Homo sapiens: one gene and its partners. The protein of the gene in region 1 interacts with the protein of each later gene in a biochemical or structural test. Each region holds a gene or a part of one and is shown on either strand. Other genes may lie near its edges.

Region 1 (7,730 bases):
TCTCTGAGCAGTATTTTATGGTTTTTAACATAGACATCTTGTACATCTTTTGTTAAATTTATTCCTGAATATTTTTTTAATGCTATTGTAAATGTAATTGTTTTTTAAATTTAATTTTCCACTTATGACTAGTATAAAAATAGAATTTTTAAATATATATTGACTTTTCTGCCTATAACCTTGCTCAATTTACTTTTTAGTTTTAGTTGTTGTTTGTAGAGTTCTTGATGTTTTCTAACTAGACATTCATGTTATCTGTGAATAGAGACAAATTTACTTCTTCCTTTCCAACCTATAGGCCTTTTATATCTTTTTTCTTGCTGGCTGGGACATCCAGTAACATTGTGAATGTAAACAGTATTGGCAAATATCTTTGCATTATTTCTAATCTTAGGCAGGAAATATTAAATGTTTCATCATTAAGTTTGAGGTTAGCTGTAGGTTTTTCTGAGATTCCCTTTATCAGATTGAAGACATTACCTTTGATACCTAGTTATATATAAAAAAAAAATTATCGGCCTTGTGGCTCATGCCTGTAATCCTAGAAATTTGGGAGGCTGAGGCAGGCAGATCATCTGAAGTCAGGAGTTCGAGACCAGCCTGGCCAACAGGGTGAAACCTCGTCTCCACTAAAAATACAAAAATCAGCAGGGGATGGTGGCACACGCCTGTAATCTCAGCTACTCGGGAGGCTGAGGCATGAGAATTGCTTGAACCTGGGAGGCAGAAGTTTCAGTGAGCTGAGATCATGCCACTGCACTCCAGTGCCACTGCACTCCAACCTGGGCGACAGAGCGAGACTCCGTCTCAAAAAAAAAAAAATTATTAAAAAAGAAAAATTACCGTGCTTGGATTGAATTTTATCACCTTTTTTCCTGTATCTGTTGATGTGATCATATGGATTTTCTGTTTTATTCTGTTAATATGGTCAGTTACATTGATTGATTTACTGTTAAACCAACCTTGCTTTCCTGGGATAAATTAACTTGACCATGCTGTATTACCTTTTTGTATATTGCTGTTTTTGATTTGATAATACTTTGTTAAAAATGTTTCATATATTTATGAGGGGTATTGGTCTGTAGTATTCTTTTAATATCATTGTCAGGTTTTGATATCAGAGTTATACTGGCCTTAAAAAGGAATTGAGAAGTATTTCCTCCTCCTTTCTGAAATAGTTTGTATGAGATGGATATTATTTGTTTCTTAAAAGTTTGATGGAATTCACTAGTGAACTGGCTAGGCTTAGAGTTCTCTTTCTGGATTGTTTCATTTGGGGTTCAATTCATTTAATAGACATAGAGCTATTCTAATTTCCTGATTTTTTTTTCTTGAGTCAGTTTTGGTACATTGTGTCTTTCAGAAATGGGTTCATTTCCTCTAAACTTCAAGTTTATTGGCAGTTGTTCATAATATTACACTTTTAAGGTCTGTTAGGATCTGTAGTAGTGTTCCTCCTTTATTCTTAATCATGCTAATTTGTCTTTTTAAAAATCAATTTAATTAGAGATTTATCAGTTTTATCAGACTATTGTAAAAAGCTTTTGATTTATTTTGTCAGTTTTCTATCTTATTTATTTCTCCTCTTTATTGTTTCCATCTTTAGACCTTATTACTTTGCTTTTTTTTAATAGCTTTTAAATGTGAAAGCGTCACTGTGTCTGTCTACATTTTGTAGTATCTGTTTCTTTTTTTCAGTTACCCACTTTTCACTTGTCAATGCTAGATGTAAGATTTCTGCAGATGGTAGTATGTAGCCTTATTCTAATAAAATCAGTGTATTATGACAGTTTTGCCACAGATGGAATAAATTATCTTGAAAGAGGGTATCTTTTTTCTAATTTGCACTAAAGTGCTCAATGGATTCATGGCAGCTCTGAGTATAAGGGTGGATTGGTTTAGAAGTTATTGGGACCTATACGATTTATTAGTATATGAAATTTCAAATGTCTCTGGTGGCAGAATGGGCATGTGCTTCTGAACATATATAGCCATAGAAGTGCTTAGCTGCAGCATCATTCGTTCACTCCCAAGGTAGAATTAGTCTCTTGCCCAGCTTATCCTTGATGTTGATGCTGAATTTGGGTCCTGCCATGATGAGATCTTCAATGAACACATCACTCACCATTATTTTGATGGATAAAAATCAGTTCCACCCAATTCATTTGAATGTCTTCATATAACTGGTTACATTTGAGTACATTTTGTCTTTAAACATCAAATCACCTGCTCTGACTGAGTTGATGGACTTGACTTGTGTCAAGGGGATGAGGGCTCTTGACTGTTCCAGTAGTAAAGGTAGAGACTAAGAACCTGAGAAAAGTCCTCTTCAGAAAGGTGAAATAAAACCCATCAGAGTTGATGATTAAGTTGTTTCACACCTTCATGGTTTTCATCCTTGTTTGGGGATATGATGGTGAAAATATTCTCATTTTCATATCTAGTAAATTGGGTCCTGATGCTTTGAATCGGAGGTTATAGAATTGCATCTTGTGCCTCAGGTGGCATTCCTCCTCACGGTAGTTTCCAGTGCCTAGGTATTTGAGGAGCATATCTGATCCATTACATTACCAACCAAATGGTTCATCATTATCTCTAGAATGCAGGCATCAGTCCATGAAGATCATCTCCGAGATGGCTTTTGTTCTGTTCCTCAAAAACTCTGCAGGCCCAATGGTTCTTTCTGTTTCCAATGGGCCCAATGGAAGTGGACCCATTTTCATTCTATGTTCTAATCTCATGGTTCAGAATTCACTTACAGGGCTCCCACATCCTATTGGGGTAGGAAAACCTTTAAGATCTTTCTTGCCTATGTACTTTGTACATACATTTCTCCTCTGAGGTCTTCTCACATTTCTGGAGTACTACCTAGGCAAGGAGGGCTGGGGTCCCTTCTGCTCTTATATCAGATAAACATATAGAGACTTTGACTAAACCCCACCCATGAGCCCAGGGCTTAGCCCAAATAACAGGATACAGGGCTCCCCTTTTTGAGGGCCCCCTTACATTTATACACCCAATGTTTCCCTCCCATCTTACAATGTATTTTCATTCCTCTGCAGTTTAATATATTTTCTGATTTCCTTTGTGATTCCTTCTTTAATGTGTAGGTTATAAGTATGTTTACTTTCCAAATATTGAGGCTTTCCTAGGTATATTATTGTTACTGATTTTTTTTTTTTTTTTTTTTTTTGAGACAGAGTCTCACTCTGTCGCCCAGGCTGGAATGCAGTGGCGTGATCTCGGCTCACTGCAACCTCTGCCACCTGGGTTCAAGCGATTCTCCTGCTTCAGCCTCACGAGTAGCTGGGATTACAGGTGCCTGCCATCATGCCTGGCTAATTTTTGTGTTTTTAGTAGAGATGGGGGTTTCACTGTGTTAGCCAGGTTGGTCTCGATCTCCTGACCTTGTGATCCGCCCACCTTGGCCTCCCACAGTGCTGGGATTACAGGCGTGAGCCACCGTGCCTGGCCCTAATTTCTAATTTAATTTTATTGTGGTCAGAGAACATTCTTGGTAAAATTCAAACTTTTGAAAGTAAGTCTTATTTAAGGCCCAGCATATGGCTTATCATAATTAATTTTCCATGTGCACATATATGTACTCTGTGTTATTGGGTGGAGTGGCTATAAATAACAATTACAGTGCTGTTCTTATTGTCTATATTCTTGCCAATTTGTTCCTCTGGTTGTTCTATCAGTTTCTAAAAAGAGATATTATAGTTTCCAACTATGATTGTGGACTTGTTTATTTCTTCCCTTAGTTACTTAAAAAAAAACAAGAAGTGTCACAGTGACTATGTAAGCCTCTATTTCTGTTTTGCTTTCTTTGATTCACATAGTCTTATGATTTTGTAATTAATTTTGAAAAAGTTAAGCAGCATAGTAAATAAATATATCAAGTCTTAATTCTAAGGTTGCTTAACAGGGATTTTAACTATATTAAAATGTAAAATAATATTAGTATAATGACTTTTCCATTTGGACCTTTAAAAATCAAGGAGGAATAATATCTTGTGAACCTATTAAGCTTTAACATCTTTTCCAGCTATTTTTTAGGAGGTAAAAGTGTGTTTCTAGAACTAAAAAATTAGATTTCGAGGTATAAATACAGTTTTGATATTGTATTAATACACAATTTCAAATACTTTATTAGTACATCTTTTAACAACCTCCCTTTAACATATTGACTTATTTTTATTGGTTACAAATTTATTCTGATTACATTGGAACTAGTGTGCATTCTAGAAATACTGTTACTTAGCATCTGGTTTTGACTTTTAAAATGGCTGTTATTTATAGTGTATTGAGGGTTTTGCTGTATAATTTGCATAGTTCCTTTTATGAAAACAATAAAAGTCTATAGCTTTCTAAAGCTATAACTTTATTTCTTCATTCTTGTTGCTTTTTTCATTCATGTATAAGAGAACTATATTAAGGAACAAATGATAACAAATCCTTTGTATAATCTGCTAGCTTCTAGGGTTAAAGTAAATCATTTGTCTTCCCTCTATATTGTAAATAAAATATTTTTTTAATTTTCTTTCTTTGATTTTTTTCTGGGTTAACCATAAATATTTTGAAGCCTAAGAACTGTCACACATAATGTGTTTCATGTTTTCAAGGAAAGAGACAAAGTTCTCTCTGTGTTGGAGAACTAACATAATGAATAGATTCTTTATGGAAAAACGTTTCTGGCTGTTATAGAGTAGAGGGTCTGTGATACATAGTTTTTTTCCTCGGGATTAGTTGTGGCGGACAAAAATGGATTAAGTCAGGAAGCTTAGATAGTTTTGTCTTCACTACTAACTTATTTGACTTGGGAAAAATAATCTACATCTGTTAAATGATCAAATGAGATGTTCTAAAGTATTTTTCAGTGGTGCGATTTTATGAAATTAAATTATTTTTACTTGTGAACTATACAAAAAAGTTTCAGAACTCAGTAATTGTTTGTGATTAATTTTGAATGGTAAATTAGAAGTGGTAAATTATGTGTTATTTAAAAAGATTGTTTTTTAAATATTTAGAGTATCCAGTACAAGATTGGATCTACAGAAAAAATCTGAAGCCCTTGAAAGTATCAAGCAAAAGCTTACCAAGCAAGAGGAAGAAAAAAAAATCCTGAAACAAGATTTTGAAACTTTAAGTCAAGAAACAAAGATTCAGCATGAGGAATTGAATAACAGAATTCAAACAACAGTAACAGAACTACAAAAAGTGAAAATGGAGAAAGAAGCTTTAATGACAGAGCTTTCTACAGTAAAGGACAAACTATCAAAAGTTTCTGATTCTTTGAAAAACTCTAAAAGTGAATTTGAAAAGGAGAATCAGAAAGGAAAAGCCGCTATATTAGACTTGGTTAGTAGTTTACATTTACTTTCTTAGGTAGAAGTGATTATTTTATTTAAAATGTACTGATTTTTCTGCTTAATTCACAGTTTGCTTTTCTTTCCACATTTAAATAGTTTAAAGTAGTTCTTATGAGGAAATTAATTGGGATTGCTTAACCTGAGAAGAAGCCCAAGATAATAATGTGTGTGTATGCACCTGTGTGCACGCCATTTTCTAAAGGCCAAGAATATTTTCAGTTGAATATTAGTCTTTCTCATGTGTGTTGTTATGTTCTTTTCTGTTTAGAGAAAACATTTTCTATCTGTACACTTTTCCTATTGTGATCATTTCTTAATTTATTGTTTCCTAAGTTTTCTTGCTTCCATTTTCTTGAAGCCCATTGCTATAAAAGTAGTGTGGCAAGTTAATTATAATGAATTGTGTGACATAAAATGTGATTTCTAAAGTGTTCTAAGATATCATTTTAATGTTTAAAATATGCCATTGTGACTTGGTTGATGATCAAAACCCTTAGTGTTTTGTTGTCCCTCCTCCATTACTTCTGTAATATTTTCCTAGTTTTATCATTGAAATGGATGATCCTGTCTCATCTTAGCTCATCATAATTTTAGTTTATTTCTTCGTGTGTATCTTACTAAGGTTATAAACTAAACTTCTTAAGGTTATTACAAATATTTTTTATGTAATATAGTTTTCATTTTTTTTAAGGAAAAAACTTGCAAAGAATTAAAGCATCAACTTCAAGTGCAGATGGAAAACACACTTAAGGAACAGAAGGAACTGAAAAAGTCACTTGAAAAAGAGAAGGAGGTAAGATTTTTTTTTTGTAACATAAAATCTGTAAAGTATAGTAAGGTCTTTATATTTTCAAATAAATATATAAAGCATGTTTGTTCTTGGGGGCATTTCCACAGATAATTTTTTTTTATAGTTTTAAGAAAAATAAGCATTTTCATACTGATATTTAGGTCATAGGTTCATTTCTCTGAAATGTAACAAATCATGTATATAGTTTAAAATTGTTATTTGTATTTTGCCTACTATTAAAAAGACTTAAGCTAGTTTATAATCAAAGACCCAAATAAAGAAATATTATTAATAAAGGTAGAAAATTGAGTCAGCTAACTACAGGGTTAAGGACCATTTTTATGGTTGAAAAAAAAATCTTAAAAGGCTTTCTATAGAAATGACCTTTATTTCATGGACTCTTTATGGCTCTTTATTTCATGGACATTTATACACATACTAATGTATACTTGATAATGGTTGTAGAACAACCAAAATATTTTTCTGTGGTTAATGCTTCTATTGTTTCCAGCAAAAACAGACAAGCAAATGAGTAAACACATGGGTATAATATATGGTTGTTGCTCTCTGAAGCCATACCTGCTAGCTGCTAGAGTCTAGGTATGCAACTTTCTAGAAAATCTGATTTGATAAAGGAGCAAGACATAGTACTGACAAGTATTTGATGTGATTGTATTCTAGTTGTTGATTGAAAGCAGACTTGTGTTGTAGATGCCAGCCATGTAAGTAGCAAAATTATAATTGCTTCATGCCCAAGTTCTGAATCAAGATTGTTCAAATTTATATCCTGGCTATGCCATTTATTAGCTATGCCATTTCGCCATCTTTTAGACCAAATACTTAATCTCTGTGCTCTAGTTTCTATATGATAGAGTCTATATGAATCTATGTGATAGAGTTATTGTGAGAAATAAATGGGTTAATATCTTTAAAGTACTCAGTACACTGACTATAATAAAGTAAATGCTCATGCTAGTTATTATTTTATCATTGGTTATATCATATATCATCCTTATTGTCATACTCTCTGACTCCTGTTTTGCATAAAAATATTTTGCTATTCATTGTGGAGATAAGCTGAGACGTCTATATATAACACTAACATTTTTTCAAAAGTAACTTTGGATATGGTCAAATGCTTGAATGTAATGCTAGGTTCTTAGTAAAATATGCATAGAACATGAAAACATGACTTTGGTTGGAGGGTGGGAGATAATAGTGGTTTACCTTGGTGACAGAGGAACTTCAGTGTGACTTCTGTATGATGTCTGAATTTGAACAGAAACATATCCTAGTGGATTGTACAAACAAGGTAGTAGTAAAATATGCCCCAGATCTCTAAATGAGGTAACTATTCTACAGTGTATTATTATTATTATTTTAAACAGAGTCTCGCTCTGTCAGCCAAGCTGGAGTGCAGTGGCGCAATCTCGGCTCACTGCAACCTCCACCTCCTAAGTTCAAGCGATTCTCCTGCCTCAGCCTCCCAAGTAGCTGGGATTACAGGTGCCTGCCACCACGCCTGGCTAATTTTTGTATTTTTAGTAGAGACAGGCTTCACCATGTTG
Region 2 (5,481 bases), on another chromosome or scaffold:
TTCGAGGTTGCAGTAAGCCATGATCAAGCCACTGCACTTCAGCCTGGGTGACAGAGTGAGACCCTGTCTCAAGAATAAAACAAAATCCTCATTTTAGAGCTAGTGTTTCATGCCTTTTTCAAGGGGCATAGAAAAGTAGCAAAGAGACCTAATGTGGTTCAGTGGGAAGAGCACAGGCCTTGCGACCCATCAGGAAGTCAAGGTGTAGATTATAATCAAAGCACCAGCTGTACTACTGCCTGTTATTGATGGGACCTTCAGCAAAGTGCTCAAGTTCTCGAGTCACAGTGAAATGGTGATAATAACGACCATTACATCAAATTCACAGGGCGAGGTGAGGATGGTGTTTGTGAAAATCTTTGAAAACTGGGAGCTACTAAGGTTATTTCCAGATTCCATTGCCTTTTTTCAGAAAACAACTTTATTGAGATAAAATTCACATACCATACATTTCACCCATTTCAAATGTACAATTCGGTGGTGTTGGTATATTCACAGATCTGTGCAGCCATCAGCACAGTCAATTTTAGAAAAATCACCTCATAAAGAAACCCATACCCTTTAGCTGTCATCTCCCTGGCCCCTTCCATTGCCTGTTTAATTTTGATTTTGTGTTTATTTATAGAGACTTTCTGATAATTTTTAAAATTAAGTTAAGTAAAAATAAGATTACTTGTGGATGACATTAAAATACTGTTTCCTATGAAAAGTGTCTCTGTAGGGCTTTCCAGTTAATGATCTAAATGCATTGGCAGGATGAGGGATGATGAGCTAAGTGTTAATAAATGACACTGCTAGGAAGATTACAATTCAAATCTATTTCTATTTTGAGAAGCAGAAAAGATGGATGAGTACTCACTGTTACTGTTGAAGTCACGGTACCATGAAAGCCGCTCATTAAACCAGGATGGGTCTCTGGGAAGGCAGGGAGAGGGAAGAGCGCGCTGATGAGCGGAGGCTGGATGGGAGCTGCCCCCAGGAGTGGATCTTCCTAGCCCAGGAATTCCACACCACCAGGAAACTGCTGGACTGTTCCTTACCTGAACTTCCTAAGCCCATGAATTGGGCTTCATGCAGCAGAACTAGGGAGGAAAGGATAGGAAGAAGGAAGGGAGGAAGGAAAGGAAGGAAGGAGAAAGGAGCCCCTCCAGGAACACCTTTATTTTGTGCACAGCCCAAAGCAGGAGTGTTGAAGCAGGGTGAAAATCTGTGTGTGCAGTGTTGGCTGTAGGAAAGGGAACTCACCCTTGGCCTCCTTTTTGTTGCAGGCCGCCAGATCCCACCCTTGGACCCCCATGAAAATGGAAACAATGGAACAATCAAAGTTGAGAAGCCAACCATGCAAGCCAGCCGCCGGTGCTGTTGACCCAAGGGCCGTGGTCCACGGTACTTGAAGAAGCCAGAGCCCACATCCTGTGCACTGCTGAAGGACCCTACGCTCGGTGGCCTGGCACCTCACTTTGAGAAGAGTGAGCACACTGGCTTTGCATCCTGGAAGACCTGCAGGGGGCGGGGCAGGAAATGTACCTGAAAAGGATTTTAGAAAACCCTGGGAAAACCCACCACACCACCACAAAATGGCCTTTAGTGTATGAAATGCACATGGAGGGGATGTAGTTGCATTTTTGCTAAAAAAAAAAAAAAACCTTTAAAAATTGTTGGATGTGTACAAAAGTCTTACTGCCTTATTATGTGTATGGGATTCTAAAGTGGCATTCCACTTGGATTTCCTGTGCTACCTATCCAAATTCCAGTAACTACTTCAGTGTCATTGCCTTTGTTACCTAACCAACCTTCACTGAAAGGCAAATTTAGTTCAGGAGGTTAGTTTTTAGCTAGCTTTGGAAGTAAGCCTTTATTTATTACTTTTTGGAGGAAATCAGAGAAGTGTCAATGGACCGTCACTCAGACTGAGACTTGAGTTATTACAGAAGCCAGGAAAAGTGTATTAGAAACTGTTGTCTACACCACTTTTAATTGGTGAACAATTTTTCTAAGTTATGGTCATATATACCCAAACAAACCAAATCAAACTAAATTACTGCATATAATTTTGGGATTGGGTGGCCTAGTTTGAAAGAGTGATTTAAGTAATCACTATGTAAGTGGTGAGAGATGCAGGACATACACATTATTCAAGAGACCACCTGACATGCATCTCCTCCGCAGGAATACATTCGTCCTCTCTTAGAGAAGTTTAACGCACATAGTATTATTTTACTAAGAGAATATCTCTTGGTGTCATATCTAGGGGAAGAGAATTAACTAGAATTAAATTTAATGTTTGAATCTAAATCATTGGGCAAACTTCTAATAATAACAATTAATAATAGGTTACAGGAAAGCCAGCCAGAGGAAGTGTCAGCACTTTAAAATTCTAGACCCCAAAAAACTACAAAATCAGAAAAAGTATTTTTATGTTTCTAGCTTGAGGAGAAGGGCTTTAGGGCTAACCAGAGGTCTGACCCTAGAATGCCAAGGAACTGAGAATGGGCTCCGATGAAAACCTTCCTTTTCAGATTCCCTGTCTGCTCAATTAAAGATGTTTGAATCCAAAGGAAGTCAAGGAAGAAAAAGCATGGAAAGGAAGAGAACTGATTCCTACTGAAAATTCAAATTCTATTACCATTCTAACTTTCATAAAAAGTTGGGATCAAGAAGCAGCTGATTTCCTGCCAGGGCTTATATTAGGGGGTGATTCTTAAAGGACATTAGGATTGGTGCTCAGAAATGGTTAATCATGCTGTGTGCTAGCCAGGGCCAGCTGGTACCTTCTTTGCCATGAGCATTCAAGGGACGGCTAACCTTTATTGACAATCTATATCGCAAAAGTCAGGAAAGAGGTTGTGAGCTGATTGGATTAAAGACCTGGCACTTCAGTAACTCAGCACGCTTCCACTTCACTCAACTTAAGAGAGTTCATTGACAGTGTTAGGATGTGAAGGCTGGGAAACACTTATTTTGCTTCAAGAGTTCCACTTGGCTCTCCCAAATAGGTACCTCAAAAACTGTTAGCAAGCGGCATTTGGATGTCTTGACAGGGGCTTTGCAGGGATTTTTAGGGTTTTTTCCACATTGTCCACATTAATGGTTGGCATGATTGTGCTTGCAGGCCAAGAAATGATCATACCCCTTGCCAAAGGTAAAAAAAAAAAAAAAAAAATGAGTTGAAAATTGAAGTGACCTCTTTCCAGCTGAGTTGCAGGCTTATTTTGTAACCTTTCCTCATCCAGTTTTCCCTGAGAACCTGGGTTTATCTCTAGATAGCTGTTCAGGTTTTTTAGCTGAGGGGTAAGTATCCTAGCTGAGAGTTTTGCATCTTTGGGCTGGGTTTGCAGTGGTTGTGTTTTGCATAAAATGTCTAGTCTTTGCCACAGATAGTGAGCTACCCACTAATGAGCCCATGGTTTTATTTCAGAAGCACATGAGGGTGTGAAACCACTCTGTTACCTTTCTGTATTGTCTTAGCTATTCAAGCCAGTCAGAGGATAATATATATATTCTCATCAGCACTCAGAGTAGTCAGTGAAGAGAGTAGATCACACTTGGGCACACCAGGATTCACATAAACATTGTATCTTCTCTGTGGATGCTCAGGCCTTGTCTACAATGAGGCTTTACAACCTTCCTTTGTTTTGGCTCGGGATTACTTCCTGGCTGTCTAATAATTGAACCATAACCATGTAATATTATGTAAAGGCCTGGAAATTACTGTTGCTAAAAAAAGTCATGTAGTTTCATGTAGTGTAGCATCCTTGGCATCGTTTTCCAAAATTTGTTCCTTCTCCCTTTTTTTTTTCTTTCGTGTGTGGCATGAGTGTGTATCTGTGTAAATATGATTGTATATGTGTTACTCCGATATGTAATCCATTTCACTGGCTGAGTTTGGCCCCTAGCCATGTGTTAATATAAAGTAGGCATGGCTTCCCAATGGAAATCTCTGAGAATGACAGTGGAGTTGTGCAAGCATTTTACATTGCCACATAATTGACTTGCCATTTTATGGTTAAAAACGGCACATTAGGCAGTTGAATATGACGTTACCTTGCAGACTAAAAGGTTGAAGGCCCGAAACTAACTTTTAGCTAACAATAAGGGCTGTGCCCCAATGGAAACTGAGTTCATTTTCTGAGAAAGGTTTGGATGACTGAAATATTTCCTCTACAGTCAAGGACTTTGGCATGTGGTGGCTGAAACTGAGCTTTTTTGTGTGGGCTCCAGTTCTCACTGTTCTGCAATGCTCATGGCAAGTTGAATGGTGAGCTAGCTTATAAATTAAAGAGCTCTGAACTGTATTCAGACCGACTGGGTATCTAGCTTACTGTTTTAACATCATTGTTGAAACCAGACCCTGTAGTCCAGTGGTGCTGCCCTGTTGTGCAAACTGCTCCTTTTTCTCGTGTTTTTGTAAAGAGCTTCCATCTGGGCTGGACCCAGTTCTTGCACATACAAGACACCGCTGCAGTCAGCTAGGACCTTTCCGCCATGTATTCTATTCTGTAGTAAAGCATTTCCATCAACAATGCCTAATTGTATCTGTTATTTTTGGTTTAACACACACTGATTCATACTAATAAATATTTTCAGTTTTACCGTTTGTCTTTTTCTTATTACACTGTTCAGTAGAATCATTTTTTAAAAATCACAGTTAACTCAAACAGAGAATGATGATTCCCCAGGGAAATGTGTGCACCTGCACATATGCAGACATGCATAAGGATGTTCCCTGAAACACTGTTTGCAGTAGCAAAATGTTGCCTTCCACTAAGGAAATGGAAAAATGAAATGCGGCCCAGCCACATGATGAAAGCTATCAGGTAATGAAAATGAACTCACTGTCATGCATCAACATTGATCTCAAAAACGGAGTTTGGAGTGCAGGCTGCCATCCTGCACATCCCCAAGGGAGCCATCATAGTGTCCTGTATGAATGCAACCCTCAGGAACTGTGCAGTGCATCGCCTGGGCAACCAACCTGTGGCCCTGGCTGAGTGAATACAGCAAGCTGAATAAGTACCAATGCATGTCAACTCACACAGAACAATAATTCAGACATTGTTTATGAATGTGTTTGTGTGCTAAAAGAATTAGAAAGTAAAACAGGAACTTCATGATGGTCCTTACCTAAGGGGAGGGAGAGAAGTGAACAGGATCAGGGAGAACGAAGGAGATGTAACTATCTGTCATTTGTATTTACTTCATGATAGAAAAATCTGAAGCCAGTACGACAAAAGGATAACATTTGGTCATTTCAAGGTGTGTGTTTTATTAGCCTTTATATTTTTCTGTGTGTTTCGTTTTTCAAAGAGGAAGGGGAATGGAGACAACAAAAACTATATAAAGGATGAGGGTGACTTCTTTAATATGCAAGAAAGATTTCATAAGTGTATTTGCCAAGTCAGTTACTTTGATGAGGTATACTCACTCCCATCCCGTCTCCTCCGTTGTCTCAGCCCCCACTACCTGCCACCAACAAACACA
Region 3 (7,730 bases), about 37 Mb from region 1:
TGGTTGGGATAATTGTTGGCATCTCTGCTAAAGAAAGGAATTTCAGACCCTTATCTCAAATTCATGGTCTCTGGATGTTCATGGTCTCTGCATGTTCACATTACTTGACTATCCCTTTCTTATCCATGATGATGATGGTTCTCCTAAGAGGCCCCTGTATTTGTCTTTCTTTTCTTTTCTTCTATTTTTAGAGACAGGGTCTTGCTTTGTCACTTAGGCTGGAGTACAGTGTGTGTCTTTCTGTAGGGATCTGAGAAGCTCCAAGCTTATCTGGATTTGAAATCGGTTTTCCTCTAAATCTCAGAGTCAGAGTACAGCTGGGGCATTTCATACTACCACCTTATTAATTGAATTTGTCCTTACTAGCTTTAAAAGCCCTCTGTTGTACCCAGCCTTTGTACAGCGCCCATTGGAAACCTCGGTTTTTTCCCCCAAGGAACTTTTCTCACCTGCAAGCCAGTCCTAGAGACAGTTGTGTAGGAGTATGTGTGTGTGTTTTTAGACGGAGTTTCACTTTTGTCACCCAGGCTGGAGTGCAGTGGCATGATCTCGGCTCACTGCAACGTCTGCCTCCTAGGTTCACGCGATTCTCCTGCCTCAGCCTCCAGAGTAGCTGGGATTACAGGCGTGCACCACCACGACCAGCTAATTTTTGTATTATTAGTAGAGACGGGATTTGACCATGTTGGCCAGGCTGGACTCTAACTCCTGACCTCAGGTGATCCACGTGCCTCAGCCTCCCAAAGCACTGGGATTACAGGAGTGAGCCACCGCGCCTGGCCGTGTGTGCGTGTGTGTGTGTGTGTTTTAATCCTATCTAATTTTTCCAACAGTTTTTTGCATCCTAAGAGAGTTTAGGAGTAGAATTATCAATAAGGAATTTCATACATAGACCTGGAGTTGCAAAAATATATTTGGAGAAGAGAGCTTTCCCATTGCCCTTCAAGTCATACCTCATATCTTTTAAAATTTTTTTCCTGGACAATCCCTACTGCATAACATACCTCATATCTTCTAACTCTTACTTTACCTGGGAGCAAATATTGCTTATTGGTATGAATTTTACTTCTGAGAAGGAGGCATAGGGTAGAAGAAGCAAGCGTATAGTTTGCTCCCTAATCCTAAAGCATTTCAGATTGGAAGGTAACCAAAGTGTGAGACAATGAACTTATAATAAGGAAATGCAGCAGCCCTCTTGGAGGAAGGATACCATAAAACCCTACATGGTATACTCCCACTTCCGTTTTGGGAAAGATTTAGCCATTGACTCAACAGTAACTGAACTGAATAAGGAGCTACCCAGGTGAACAAAGTATGTGTACATTTCTGGGCAAGGTTGTAGCTTCTGTTCAGGGACAGTGGGTACCTTTTCAGAGTGTCTCCTGGTTCTGTGGTGTTATGGCTCCTTTTTTTAAACTTGTGTTTCTCAAGTCAGGAATTAATAGATAGTGGCCCAAAGCTTTTGACCGTTCAACATCAACTGAAAATTCAGCGAACTTTGTTTTTAGCTATAGTTGCCTCAGTGTTTGGGTGGGAGGGCCACATATTGGGTGTGATTAGGCCATCTGAGGCATAGTAACGGGTGACAGGAAAAGCAGTTAGCCCATGCGAGTTGCAATAGTACCTTGTGGGCAAGATCCCAAGGGGGCCCTCCATCCAAGGGAGATCACAGAGGAGCCAGGGAGAGAATTGATTCTGAGGCCTATTAAAAATATTCCCAAATGGGGCCGTGTGCGGTGGCATGCGCCTGTAATCCCAGCACTTTGGGAGGCTGAGGCGGGTGGATCACGAGGTCAGGAGATTGAGACCATCCTGGCTAACACGGTGAAACCCCGTCTCTACTAAACAAAATACAAAAAATTAGCTGGGCGTGGTGGTGGGCGCCTGTAGTCCCCCAGCTTCTCGGGAGGCTGAAGCAGGAGAATGGCGTGAACCTGGGAGGCAGAGCTTGCAGTGAGCCGAGATCGCGTCACTGCACTCCAGCCTGGGCGACTGAGCAAGACTCCGTCTCAGGAAAAAAAAAAAAGAACCCAAATGGAATTGAGTAAGATCTGTCCAGATGGTACAGAAAGGGAGGAGTTGATTGGGGGAGAGAAGTAGAATTACTTAGCCTTAATTTAGGGAGCATTTAATGAGCACCTACTAGGGATCAGGCAGCATGCTGTGCTCTGAAGATTTTAAGATAAACTCCCACTTTTAAAGAAGTTCATAGTTTAGCAGAGCAGACAGACACAATTTATATACTGTGATAATGTGATACATACTATTATAGAAATACAGTCTTTTTTTTTTTTTTTTGAGACGGATTCTTGCTTTGCTGTCCAGGCTGGAGTACAGTGGTGCAATCTGTGCTCACTGCAACCTCCGCCTCCCGGGCTCAAGCAATTCTCATGTCTCAGCCTCCTGGGTAACTGGGATTACAAGCCTGTGCCAACATGCCCAGCTAATTTTTGTATTTTTAGTAGAGACGGGGTTTCACCATATTGGCCAGGCTGGTCTCGAACTCCTAACCTCCAGTGATCCATCTGCCTTGGCCTCTCAAAGTGCTGGGATTACAGGTGTGCGCCACCACACCTGGCCAGAAATACAGTCTTAATACTGTGGGACCCTACGGGCCTCTAGAGAATGATTAATTCTGTGGGGGAGAGGGTGATTATGTAATTTCACTGAAGTAACATTTGAGCTTGGTCTTATGAGATATATAGAATTTTGCTAGGCAGACAAGTAGGGACGGGCATTCCAATCTTACCTAGGTCAATAATAGGGAGTTTGTACTACCATACTGATAAGAGGTAAGTATGCTTTTTGCCTCTTGGAGAAATATAAGGGAAAGGGTGCGAGATGTGGAAGGAATCTCATTTAATCCAATGACTCATTAGGTAACACTGGATCAACAAAATGAAGAGCTGAGCCAAGTGGTAGAACTCTCATTTCAAGATTTTGGTGACTTGGGTTTAAACAGAGTTGGAGAGGGAGATGAAGGTATTTACTGGTTTCTGCTCTATCTTCCCTACTTAGTAAAACTCTCACATTAATCGCAGGGCCCACCAAATTCTGCAAAAGTTACCGCTTGTTTTCCTATTGCCTCTCATTGAATTGCTTCTATTTCAACTGTCCTGGCAGGGTTTGGTCATAGACCTTCTAGAAAAGAGTAGTGATGAATTAATTCTTCTGTCAGAAAGATATGGGACTGCATCCCAGTTGCCAAGGAAGGCCTGGGTCTTCTTAATTTGTTTTTAGTCCCAAAGCAAGTACTTACCTAAACTGAATAGAGGCAGGAACTCTATCCAGTCTAAGCTCTCGATCCTGTCCTGGTGTTCTCTTTAGAGTTCAGCATTTCCTGCTTCCTTAAGAAGTATAGTGGTATAAGAGGCAGGAGTACCTGACTAGGAGTCCTACATTTACTGCTTAGCAGTTGGCTGTATGGTAACACTTGACAAGTTGACTAATTTTATTTTATTTTTTATTTATTTATTTATTTTTTGTGCAAATGGTGGCCTTTAATACCAAGAAAGACCATGACAAGTGACAGAACAGGAGCAAATTCCCTAGTGTAGTGCCGAGCTAGCCCTTTGCAGGACCCTAAAACCTGATCTAGTAACAGAATAAATCAGTGTATTTACATTTATGTTTGCCCTGAAAACCCAGGTAAGGTCTGAAGCCTGAGGCATCTCTCCTTCCTTTCCTCCTCCCTCTCTTCCTACCTCCTTGCCTTCGTTCACTTCCTCAATTCATTCCTCTCCCTTCTCCCTTCCTCTCTTTTCCTTCTTTTCCTTTCTGCTTTTCCCTTTTCTCCTTTTTCTCCTCATTCTCTTTACCATCTACCTATGTGTCCCTCCAAGCCCCTCTGCTATTTCTCCCCTGCTCACTCCCTCTGCTGTTGTCTCCCTCAGGTTCAGCTTCCGGGGTGGGGAGGCAAGAAAGGGTCCTCAGCTCAGGGAGCACTTGTTGGTGTTCTTTATGTCACAAGTTTTCAGGTCAGTACTGGGAGGCTTGTTGCCGTTTCCTGATCTCCGGCCTCCTGACTTGAGCAAGATGTCCCGGGCCAGGGAACTAAAAGCCTCATCCACATTCATACTGGATTTAGCACTAGTTTCGAAAAATCGGATTCCATGCTCTCGAGCCAACTTATCGGCCTGCTCCTTCTGCACCTTCCTCTTGGCCTCCATGTCACATTTGTTCCCTAGCAAGAGGTGCTCCACCCCAGCTGAGGCATTCTCCATGATGCTTTTCATCCAGTTCTGAATATTCTCGAAAGATTTCTCATCCGTGATGTCGTATGCTAGGATAATGCCCATGGCTCCACGGTAGTAGGCAGTAGTTATTGTCTTGAACCGCTCTTGGCCAGCTGTGTCCCAGACTTGTAGTTTGATCTTCTTCCCCTCTATATCCACAGTGCGGATCTTGAAATCAATTCCGATGGTGGAGATGTAAGTGTTGTTGAAGTTGTCCTCTGCAAAGCGAATGATCAGACAAGTCTTGCCCACCCCCGAGTCCCCGATCAGCAGCAACTTGAAGAGGTGGTCGTAGGCTTTGGCCATGGCGGACACCGGGGGAGCCGGGGAAGGGATGGGGCTATTTATTTATTTTTGAGACGGAATCGCTCTGTTGTCCAGGCTGGAGTGCAGTCGTGTGATCTCGGCTCACTGCTACCTCTGCCTCCCAGGTTCAAGCAATTCTCGTGCCTCAGCCTCCTGAGTAGCTGGGATTACAGGCACGCACCACCACACCCAGCTAATTTTTGTATTTTTAGTAGAGACAGGTTTTCACCACGTTGGCCAGGCTGGTCTCAAACTCCTGACCTCAGGTGATCTGCCCATCTCGCCCTCCCAAAGTGCTAGGATTACAGGTGTAAGCCACCACGCCTAGCCCAAATTGACTAATTGTATGTGTCTCGGTTTCCTCACCTATAAAATATAGAGACTGGACTAAATGACCTCTAGACTGGCTCTGATCTGCCTGACTGACCTTAAGGCTGACAACTGGTACTGGGTTGGACTCCAGTGGCTATATATACCGAGAACTCTGTCTCTGTTGATAGGTGATAGACTTCTGGAGACTTCATATGTATTTGGTTTAGGGACTCAAAGCTAACAAGTGGAAGGGGGCTTGAGGAATGGAGTCTTACTCTAGCTGGGACTGCTAAGACACTTTTACTGTTATGCCTACTTTGCTGCACTGCTTGGGAGAGTTGCCCACATTAAAGAACATCCTCCATGGGTCTCCTGCATCTAGTGGGCTAACCCATGGTCAGGCCTCAATCCTCCCTAGTTAATGGGTCATTTTATAAGTCATTCTTGTAGAGCCGTACTTCTTTTTTTTTTTTTTTGATGGAGTCTTGCTCTGTCACCCAGGCTGGAGTGCAGTGGCAAAGTCTCGACCCACTGCAGCCTCTGCCTCCCAGGTTCAAGCAATTCTCCTGCTTCAGCCTCCCAAGTAGCTGAGATTACAGGTGTCAGCCACCACACCTGGCTAATTTTTGTGTTTTTAATAGAGACGGGGTTTCACCATGTTCGCCAGACTGGTGTTGAATTCCTGACCTTAGGTGATCCGCCCACCTCAGCCTCCCAAAGTGCTGGGATTTCAGGCATGAGTCACTGCACCCGGCAGAGCTGCACTTCTAAGGGAAGTTAAATCTGATTTCTTCTCTTCTGAGCTAAAAAGGTTGAAAGGAAGAGAAACCTGCCCCATCTCCCTTTTTTTTGTCTCGGGTTTGAAGGTAATAATCATCATACCACTTGACTGGTTTACCAAAAAAAAAAAAAAAAATTAGTATTTTTGTGGGAAAAAATGAGAATAGAAAATAAATAATTGAATCTTATATGTATTATTTCATTTCTGTACCACAGAATTTTTGAGAGTCTAGCTATTATATTTTTTAAATGATACCCTTATAAACATGATAAGATTAAAGATCAAAGCTTAGAGGTGGCTCAACAATTGCTGTGAACAGGGAGGAAGGCAGGACATATTCTTTCTTTTTCAGAGGTGGGATCTCACTATGTTGCCCAGGCTGGTCTCAAACTCCTGGGCTCAAGTGATCCTCCTGCCTTGGCCTCCCAAAATGCTGGTATTACAGGCGTGAACCATGATGTGCAGCCAGAACATACTCTTAAGGCTACATATTAGGGTACGAGGTAGTCTTTTCTAAGTCAGTAGTTACTGATCTCTGAGAATCCAAGGTTGCTTAGTAGCAAGAAAGCTTGCTGACCACATCTGGGCTCTGGCTTGACTTCCCATCTCTGAGAGTTAGTGACAGAGACTTTGCAACTCAAGCGTGTCTGCAATTGTTTCCTGTCTTTACACTCCCCCAGAGCTCAAGTGATATGTTTAGCCATGAGAATTCAGTCCATTCTAACTCCCACATTTTCCTTTATTGTAGAGTAGTAACATTGAGGCTTAATATTCTACCCCTTGGATCACATGCTTTGAAATACATAAAAATGTAAGGGAGTAAGTTGAAAAAACCAGTAACTTTTTCTATTGTTTCTTGAGAGTATAGCATATATATGTCACCTGAAGGAAACTTGATCAGCTTATCATCTGTCCTTTTTTTTTTATTATGGTGTCACCTGTCTTCTCTTTTATTTATTTTTTATTTTGAGAGACGGAGTCTTGCTCTGTTGCCCAGGCTGGAGTACAGTGGCATAATCTCAGCTCACTGCAACCTCCGCCCTCTGGGTTCAAGCGATTCTCCTGCCTCAGCTTCCCAAGTAGCTGGGACTACAGGCATGTGGCGCTACACCCAGCTAATTTTTGTATTTTTTAGTAGAGACGGGGTTTCACTATATGTTGGCCAGGCTGGTCTCAAACTCCTGACCTCTCAAACACCAGAGTGAGACTCTCTCTAAAAATGGAAAATAAATTTTAAAATGTTATAATTAAAGATACTCATTTAAATTGAATAAATTTAGCTTTATGAAAAATTTGCTGTATCATCTTTATTTTGATCCTTTCGTCATAGGCCATTGAAAACTTAATCATAAAATGGTACATGTATATCTGAATTTTTAAGACTGACTGACCAAGGGGACTACAGAATACCCAGTAGAATCAAAGTAATTGTCATGTTCCTCTGTATTAATCTAGTCTACTTTGGGACCTTGAGTTCTCACCTCTCATTCTTTTGCTAACTTCCTCTTTACCCTTTAGTTATGTCTCCTTTTTTTTTTTTTTTTTTTTCCAGAGATAGCGTCTTGTTCTGTCGCCCAGGCTGGAGTGCAGTGGTGTAATCAGCTCACTACAACCTTCAACTCCTGGGCTCCAGTGATTCTCCCACCACAGCCTCTGGAGTAGCTGGGATTACAGGCACATACCACCATGCCCAGCTAATTTTTTTAAATGTTTTCTAGAGACTCAGTCTCGCTATGTTGCCTAGGCTGGTCTCAAACTCCTCACCTCAAGCAAGGCTTCCCCTTTTATCTCCCAAACCCCTGGGATTACAGGCATGGGCCGCTCTGCCAGGCCTGTTTTTTCTCTTTTTCTTTCTCTGTACCACTTTCATATTGTGGCTTCTTCCCTGCCCCCGATCTCCCCCCTACCCACCCCAGGTGGAGTCTTGCTCTGTTACCCAGGCTGGAGTGTGGTGGCACGATCTCGGCTCACTGCAACCTCCGCCTCCCGGGTTTAAGCAGTTCTGCCTCAGCCTCCCGAGTAGGATTACAAATGCCGGCCACCAACCACACCCGGCTAATTTTTTTTTTTTTTTTTTAGACTGAGTCTCGCTGTTG
Region 4 (8,693 bases), on another chromosome or scaffold:
CAGGCCTGTCTGGGGTGGGCGCTGCCGCTCACCACTCAGGGAGGACCTGGGCCCCTTGGCTTCCTGCCTTGGGGTCAGCAGCCACCAGCTGGCCTGGTTGGCTCTGGATTTCTGGACTTTTTAATGAAGCGTGGTTACCTCTGACGCTATTCCCTTTTCCAAGCCTTCCCCAACCTCCCCCTCTGTGAGGGGAGCCACCTGAGGGCTGTGGAACCCAGCAGGCATGAGATGAACCGCAGTGCCCATTGGGCTGGGCAGATGAGATCCTACTTTCTCCCCAGGACCTGGAGGCAGGTAGAGATGGGGGAGCAGAGGGGATGGGCAAGGGACCCAGCTCCAGCCTAGGACATGAAGGGAAGACCAGACAGGATCTTAGCGTCTATAGCAAGAGAGACAGGTTGTAGGATTTTGCCTGAAGATAGCTTAGTGATATTGTGAGGTCTTCTGTCTCAGCCCCTGGGTCTCTGCTGAAGACCTTAAGAGCAATGTTACCTAGAGAGGGGTAGGTTTGAGATGTTGCTTGGAATTTGAGCAACCCATGATTTCTTAGGCCGCCCACCATGAGCCCAGGCTGGAGAGGCTCACCTCATCCCACAGCCCACACAGGAAACAAACGGATGGCTCCAGATATGTACTCTTCGGCTCGCGCAGCATTATTTTCAAAATATGAGTTAGTTCCAATATTAAAAATGAGACAGGGCCAGGTGCGGTGGCTCACGCCTGTAATCCTAGCACTTTGGGAGGCCAAGGCAGGCGGATCACCTGAGGTCAGGAGTTCGAGACCAGCCTGACCAACATGCAGAAACCTCATCTCTACTAAAAATACAAAATTAGCCGGGCATGGTGGCACATGCCTGTAATCGCAGCTACTCGGGAGGCTGAGGCAGGAGAATCGCTTGAATCCGGGAGGCGGAGGTTGCAGTGAGCCAAGATCGCACCACTGCACTCCAGCCTGGGCGACAGTGAGACTCTGTCTCAAAATAAAAAAAAGAGACAGGTTATATAGGAATACAGATATTCCAATTTCTCTACAAAATGTAGCACTGGGCACAGTGGTTCATGCCTATAATCCCAGCCCTTTGGGAGGCCGAGGTGGGAGGATCGCTTGAGTCCATGAGTTTGAGATCCACCTGAGCAACATAGCGAGACCCTATCTCTATAAAAAAAATATATATATATATATTTTTTTATAGACGGAGTCTCACTCTGTCACCCAGGCTGGAATGCAGTGGTGCAATCTCAGCTCACTACAAGCTCCGCCTCCTGGGTTCATGCCATTCTCCTGCCTCAGGCTCCCAAGTAGCTGGGACTACAGGCGCCCGCCACCACACCCGGCTAATTTTTTGTATTTTTAGTGGAGACAGGGTTTCACCATGTTAGCCAGGATGGTCTCAATCTCCTGACCTCCTGATCCGCCTGCCTCGTCCTCCCAAAGTGCTGGGATTACAAGTGTCAGCCACCGCACCCAGCCTATAAAAATATTTTTTTTTTTTTGAGACGGAGTCTCACTCTGTCGCCCAGGCTGGAGTGCAGTGGTGCAATCTCGGCTCACTGCAAACTCCGCCTCCCGGGTTCACGCCATTCTCCTGCCTCAGCCTCCCGAGTAGCTGGGACTACCGGCGCCTGCCACCACGCCCAGCTAATTTTTTTGTATCTTTAGTAGAGACGGGGTTTCACCATGTTAGCCAGGATGGTCTCGATCTCCTGACCTCATGATCCACCTGCCTCGGCCTCCCAAAGTGCTGGGATTATTTTGAAAAATATTTTTCAAAATATTTTTCAAATTAGCCAGGTGTAGGCTGGGCATGGTGGCTCACGCCTGTAATCCCAGCACTTTGGGAGGCCGAGGCAGGTGGATTACCTGAGGTCTGGAGTTCGAGACCAGCCTGACCAACATGGAGAAACCCCATCTCTACTAAAAATACAAACATTAGCTGGGATGGTGGTGCATGCCTGTAATCCCAGCTTCGCGGGAGGCTGAGGCAGGAGAATCGCTTGAACCTGGGAGGTGGAGGGTGCAGTGAGCCGAGATCGTGCCATTGCTCTCAAGTCTGGGCAATAAGAGTGAAACTCCACCTCAAAAATAAATAAATAAATAAATAAAAATTAGCCAGGTGTAGTGGTGAGTGCCTGTGGTTCCAGCTACTCCAGAAGCTGAGGTGGAAGGATGACTTGAATCCAGGAGTTCAAGACCAGCCTGGGCAACATAGCAAGACACCCCCCCCACCCATCTCTATACAAATTAAAAAATTAGCCAGGTGTAGTGGTGTGTGCCTGTGGTCCCAGCTACTCTGGAAGCTGAGGTGGGAGGATCTCTTGAGCCCAGGAGGTTGAGGCTGCAGTGAGCAGTGATCACACCACTGCACTCCAGCCTGGGTGACAGAGTGAGACCCTGCTCAAACAAAACAAAACAAAAAAAACCTCAGGACATCAGGCTACCGTGGGCCAACATTCCATCTGGCAATAACTGGCAATCAGCTGGGCTGGGTGGCCACTGTCCTCTTTAGATGGGATCTGCTCTGCACTCTACTTCGCAGTCACCACGTTTCTTGATCATCTCCCGACACCCAGCTAGCTTCCCTTGTTTGAAATTTTTGTTTGGTCTCTGTGGGTATTTGAGTTCTCAAAACTTGAGTGTCCATCAGAACTACCTGAGATCCTATTAAAACGCAGATTCTGCCAGGCGCGGAGGCTCAAAAAAATAAAAAAATAAAAAGCAGATTCCTGGGCCTCATCCAATTTGGAATGTCCGGGGTGGAGCCCAGGGGTTGAGTTTGCAACCTCTGCCTTACCTAACAGTGTGTTCCCAGGTCCCTGTGCCCAACAGGTGCTTTTTGGGCCCAGTAATGTCTGCTTCTACTCCTAGGCGTGGGTCTGTCAACATCTCTGTTTCTGTCTCTCTGCAGGCTGTCTCTCAAGGTGGTCTCTTCTGCTGCTAGCAACTCAAAAATCCCAACAGCACTCCCTATCCTTTCCCTGACCCCAGACCGCTGCCAAGCCTGTTCTCCCCCATTACAACATGGTCTCACTCAGGGCCTGGACTGCTCCAAAACTCGCCCAGGTCTCCAGCTCTCCTCTACCACCCAACACCCTGGGCTCACTTTTGGATAGGAAATAAACTCTTTATTTTTGTAGTTATTGGCTCTGGGTGTTTCTGGGGGTTACTCTGAGAGCCCCAGGGCTTTGGAGGAGCCAACACAGCAATCACTCCCCACCCTCACCTTCGTTGTACCCCAGGGCCCAGTTGCTATCTCTAGGAAGGGCAGAGGCACCAGCCAATCTACTTGGCACCACATTCACACCACCAGGGGCCCCAGGGTTGAGGAAGAAACTTAATTAGTCACTATGGGCCTATTATACCCCCTTCTCTCCCCTGCACCCCAGTCACAGCCATGTATGCACACAGTATGTGGGAAGGACAGAGTCCTGGCTTTGGCCCACCTCCAGCCTTGGAAAGGTGGGCCTAGGGGACTACCCATCCCTCCTGTATAAGGAACTGTTCCAGAACTGGGTATGGCAAGGGGGCTGGGGGAAGAGCTTGTCACCAGCCAGAACCTGCTAGGAATCCCACTCTGCCCCATCCCCTCTGTCCTCCCAACAAGCCCTCTCTTCCCTCTTCCTTTTCACTTCTCATGAACACTGGCGCGGAAGTGGGGATTGTGTGTTATGGGTGTAAGAAAGAGAGACGCCCTGATGACCAGATGGAACTAGATGTGGGCACAGTTTTGTGGCAGGTTGTCCAAGACAGGTAAATTCTCCAGCTGAGGCTCCAGGATATGCCTGGTGTTGGCGTTATAGGCACAATGGCCACAGCTGTCTCCGGTGAGCTTTGATTCCACACAGGTTTTCAGTAGTGTCCCTTGAGGATGAGATGCAAAAGAAGAGGAGGTACTGGTTTGTGTTGAGAGGTAAGGGTGGGAGGAATCAGGAGCGGGCCCAGTCCATATTGAGAGGAGCAGAAAAAACAAATATTCCTGATCCATAGAGGGGGAGAGTGCAGAGTGGGGGTGGTTCTAGTCTTTATTTACGGATGGAGAGGGCCGAGGCAGAGGTTGTCCAGCTCTGTATTCCGCGTCAGAGAGAAGAGCTGACCCTGGCTAGGAGCAGGGGAAGGCAGAGGCAGAGATGGTCTTTGTGCCGGCCCCCGCACACACCAAGTAGGAGGTGGTGGCAGAAGCTCTCCCTTTGATCTCACCCAGCATCCTGCAGAGAACTCTTCCTGCAGCGCTTTCCTCACCTTCCCAATCACAGACGCCCCTGGCAATCGGGCGGACAGTGCAGACAAGGGCTTCTCCAGATCAGCGAGTTCACAGGACTGAGGCCTCGCGTGCATATTCATTCGCACCACGTTTTTTCTTTCCCAATTCTGCACACACAATCCTCTGCCTTCTTCCAACGCTCCACCACCCGCCTTCCCTCGGGGCGTCCGGAACCGGCGGTGACGCGGATGGCAGGGTTAGCCTTAAAAAGTTCCCGGCCGTAGGCTGGGCGCGGTGGCTCAGGCCTGTAATCTCAGCACTTTGAGAGGCCGAAGAGGGCGGATCACCTGAGGTCAGGAGTTCGAGACCAGCCTGGCCAACATGGCGAAACCCCCGTCTCTACTAAAAAATACAAAAATTAGTCGGGCGTGGTGGTGCGTGCCTATAATCCAGCTCCTCGGGAGGCTGAGGCAGGAGAATCGCTTGAACCCGGGAGGCAGAGGTTGCAGTGAGATCGCACCACTGCACTCCAGCCTGGGCGACAGAGTAAGACTCCGTCTCAAAAAAAAAAAAAAAGTTCCGGCCGGGCTCCGCCTCGCAGTCAGCCGGCTCCACCCTAAGCCCAAGTCCCAGGCAGCCACTGACTCCTCCCAGCGCTGCGAACTACAAGTCCCGCGATCCCTCGCGCGCTCCCTACCGCCACTCCCGCGTTCCTACCGGCGCCGCTGGGTAGGTCGGCCAAGAGTGCCTCCCATTGGTCTCCGCACTGTCAATCACCTGGGAGTATTGAGGGGCGGGGCGGAGGTGGAGATCCGGATCCGGAGCGGCTGAAAGGCGGAAGTGGAGGCCGGAGCCTGGGACACCGCCGGCGGGGAGAGAAGCGGATCCCGTCCGAGCCCCGGCCCCAAGTAACGCCGCCGCCCCGGAGCCGCCGTGAGTATGCTTGTCCCAGGACCTGGTGTCTCGCCTGCGTTGAAGCATCTCCAGGGCAGCCCTTCCTCCCGCCCAGCCCCAGTTTAGGGGGATACTGACCCCTCCCCCGACCCGTAGCCCCCTCTTGAGGGGCTCCCCAGGCGTCGGGCCATAGGAGGTGGGGAGCTTCTTTCCTTAGCTTACCTGCCTTTGGTGAGCCTTAAGGAAACCGCTATGACTGTCCTCTGGCCTGTCCATTCTAGTTGTGGGAGAGAGGTACCCTAAGTTCCGCTCCCCCTGCTTCCAGAATCGGAGGATCTTTGCTAGGTGTGAAGGAACCTGTCCCTCTTCTCTTTTAGAAGTGACAGGGAGTGCTGTCTGTCGCCGTTTTCCTTCCTCCTGTCCCACAAAACCAGTTGTCCCCTCTAGCCCTAGAGGAATATCTCGATTTCCTTTGGGGGAGGGGGGTCGTCTGGGTGAGACCGTTCCACACGCACAGAAGTGTGTGTGCGCTCCCGCAACTCCTTACTTCCTCTCTTTCCTCAAGCCAGAGAACCAACCAGGACCTCAGCTGAGTTTAAAGTCACTTACTAGAAATGAGCTGTTTTCCTGTTTTGCCCCTTCTGTCTCCCAGCCCTGTCCTCTAGTTATGTTGTTCTTTGAGTGTCTCTCTCTTTCTGCCTCTGAAGAATTTAGCTGAGGTTTGCTCAATCCTAGCTACAGATCACAGATCAGGGTGGATGTGCCCATTCATTATCTTCTTTCCCCTCCCCCCTTGCTCCAGGCTCAGCTCTGTCCTCCCAGAGCACGTGAGTGGTTTCCCAGCCGCCTCAAAGGGACTGCTTTTCTTGGGACTGCTGTCCGTGTGTCTATAGGGAGGAGAATAAGACCCAAAATGAGGAGTCTGGAATTGAAGGGCCATCTCTTTCCCACTCCCAAACACACACACATACACCTCCCTGAGCAACAGGTCCACACCACGCCAGGGTCTGTCTGCAATCCCTTCAGGGCTTGGACTTATTACTGAGGACTAAGTCAAGATCACAATGGCAGTTCTGGATTTTTAATTGTAGCCTGAGGAATTCCGATACATGCCAGAAAGTGCAGGTTCCCTCAACCATATTGACTGATCCTTGTCTGTTGCTTGGGGCTTAGGTGTGTGAAATAGCTGCTGTCTCAGACCAAGCTTTGTTATGTGGCCAAAGTACAGGCCGGAGACTGTACCTTAACGAGGAGTAGCCTGGCTCTGAGGCCATGACTGACCCTTGCTATCTACAGTGGAGGAAGGGACGGAAAGCCGTGCAGTTTGTGGGAACTTCTGTAGCTCTTCAGTGTTCTGGGCTACCTTTACCACCCTCGCTTGCCACTTAAAAGTGCTGTGTTTTTTGGCCTTGAGGTGTGTTTGAGGGCTTCTGGACAGTGGCTAGTATCTGATTCCTACAGTCTTTTGAGTAGAGCTAGGATGTACTTTCTTCACTTTTTTGTTTGTTTGTTTTTGAGATGGAGTCTTGCTCTGTCGCCCAGGCTGGAGTGCAGTGGCGTGATCTTGGCTCACTGCAACCTCTGCCTCCTGGGTTCAAGCAGTTCTCTTGCCTCAGCCTCCTGAGTAGCTGGGATTAACAGGCGCCTGCCACCACACCCGGCTAATTTTTGTATTTTTAGTAGAGATGGGGTTTCGCCATGTTGGCCGGGCTGGTCTCGAACTCCTGACTTCAGGTGATCCACCCGCCTCAGCCTCCCAAAGTGCTGAGATTACAGGTGTGAACCACCGTGCCCGGCCTACTTATTTCACTTTTTATCGGACAACAGAAGAAGCCTTCCTTATTAGGGTCAACAGCTGGATCACAGGCTCTGTATCTGTGTGGGTTCCTTTGGGGTTCATTGGAGACTTCTTCAACCAACCTAGTTTCTCTGATCTGGTCAGCCTGGGCATCTGAGGGGCAGGGCCAGAGAGGCCTGACTGCTCACTGGCCATTGGTCTCTGACCAGACTTAGGTCTTCAGGAGTAGACCGCAGTTTGTCACTCTTCAGGAGTGCTGGGATGAGGCCGACCAGCCTTCTGAGGAGACCTTCTTTTCTTTGTCTGGACATGCTCTCCCAGCTCTGACTCTGAAACGACTTTTTTTTTTTTTTTGGAGACAGAGCCTTGTTTTGTCACCCAGGCTGGAGTGCAGTGGCACAATCTTGGCTCACTGCAGCCTCTGCCTCCCGAGATCAAGGGATTCTCCTGCCTCAGCCTCCTGAGTAGCTGAGATTACAGCCATGCACCACCACGCCCAGCTAATTTTTGTATTTTTAGTAGAGATGGGGTCTCACCATGTTGGCCAGGCTGGTCTCGAACTCCTGACCTCAGATGATCCACCCACCTCAGCCTCCCAAAGTGCTAGGATTACAGGCATGAGCCACTGCACCCAACCTGAAACGACTTTGAAGGGGAAGCTCTGCCATTTAGAGAGACGAGGCAGGCCCCAGTGCTTTGGGTCGTTATGCAGCCACTTCTGGCACCTAGAAATTATAGAGTCCAAGCAGAGGTCTGACTCTGCCTGGCAGAGAGAGCGATGGCTCCGTGTGCGACAGAACCCCTCCTTTCTGATGCTGTTCCTCCCCTGCCCTCTTGCCTCTCACAATTAGAGGGCTGTTAAACTGTAGAGGGACAGTAACACTAATTTTTAAAAATCATTTTAAGGTTGCAAAATTATTTTCATACATATTCCTCATAGGTGCCTTGGGAAATAGTGGGGCTTGTTTCCCCACTTTGTTTTTAATTTTTATTATTACTTTTTTTTTTTTGAGTAAGATAAGGCAAGTGTCCCTGCTTTAGAAGGGATGCAGAAGGAACTTAAGTAGTTTGCCTAAGATCGATCATACATTTAGAAAGTAGTAGAGCTGGGGCTTGGATTTGGGGTCAGATGTGACCTGATCTAACAGTGGGCCCTTCTTCGGCCTGGTTTGTTCGTTAAATGAATGAACATGCAGACTGAGTGCGCCACGGCACAAGGGCAGACTCTTAACTCTTTAGCCCTCCTCATCACTAGCGCTCCTCTGTTTTTTTGTCTTCCCCAGCGTCTACCCGACCTCCTGTCTTCTCTCTTGACCCCTTTCACCTCTGCCTCTGAGGACCAAAACAGTTAGGAGTCCCAAGTCAGTACTCTTCAGGGCCTGAGAGTTTGCTGACATCTACATGTCATTAATTTTTCTGGGAACCTGAAAGTCCTAATGGCTAGAAAATGAAAGTTAAAGTGAGTAAACTCAGGGGTCCCACTGGGCAGGGTTAAGGGGGAAGCAACAGAGCGGGCCTCTGGTTAGTCCTCTGTTTCTCCTGTGGTGCTGCCTGCTGCTTGCAAGTGGGAAGAATGTGGCTTGCCACCAGGAGCTCCTGTCACTAGAATTTACATGGAAACAGAGCAAGATCATACATTTAAATTCAGCCCCACCAAGCAAGTACTTCTTAGACCTTCTACTTCTTTTTTTTTTTTTGAGTCGGAGTCTCGCTCTGTCGCCTAGGCTGGAGTGCAGTGGTGCGATCTTGGCTCACTGCAAGCTCCGCCTCCCGGGTTCATGCCATTCTCCTACCTCAGCCTC

What was found.
Region 2: the proteins of EEA1 (region 1) and RAB31 form a complex in vitro, tested with the Homo sapiens proteins (2 studies listed by BioGRID).
Region 3: the proteins of EEA1 (region 1) and RAB5B form a complex in vitro, tested with the Homo sapiens proteins (one study listed by BioGRID).
Region 4: the proteins of EEA1 (region 1) and RAB5C form a complex in vitro, tested with the Homo sapiens proteins (2 studies listed by BioGRID and IntAct, with this or other methods).

The regions. Positions count from the first base shown.
Region 1 is NC_000012.12:92,800,035-92,807,764, reverse strand, and holds part of EEA1 (early endosome antigen 1), read left to right. Parts: intron 1-5,030; coding exon 5,031-5,361; intron 5,362-6,063; coding exon 6,064-6,165; intron 6,166-7,730. UniProt on the Homo sapiens protein: Binds phospholipid vesicles containing phosphatidylinositol 3-phosphate and participates in endosomal trafficking.
Region 2 is NC_000018.10:9,857,960-9,863,440, forward strand, and holds the end of RAB31 (ras-related protein Rab-31), read left to right. Parts: intron 1-1,268; coding exon 1,269-1,366; 3' UTR 1,367-4,592; downstream 4,593-5,481. UniProt on the Homo sapiens protein: The small GTPases Rab are key regulators of intracellular membrane trafficking, from the formation of transport vesicles to their fusion with membranes.
Region 3 is NC_000012.12:55,976,493-55,984,222, forward strand, and holds part of RAB5B (ras-related protein Rab-5B), read left to right. Parts: intron 1-2,879; coding exon of another isoform or gene 2,880-2,982; intron 2,983-7,730. UniProt on the Homo sapiens protein: The small GTPases Rab are key regulators of intracellular membrane trafficking, from the formation of transport vesicles to their fusion with membranes.
Region 4 is NC_000017.11:42,151,332-42,160,024, reverse strand, and holds the start of RAB5C (ras-related protein Rab-5C), read left to right. Parts: upstream 1-5,035; 5' UTR 5,036-5,132; intron 5,133-5,315; exon of another isoform or gene 5,316-5,625; intron 5,626-8,693. UniProt on the Homo sapiens protein: The small GTPases Rab are key regulators of intracellular membrane trafficking, from the formation of transport vesicles to their fusion with membranes.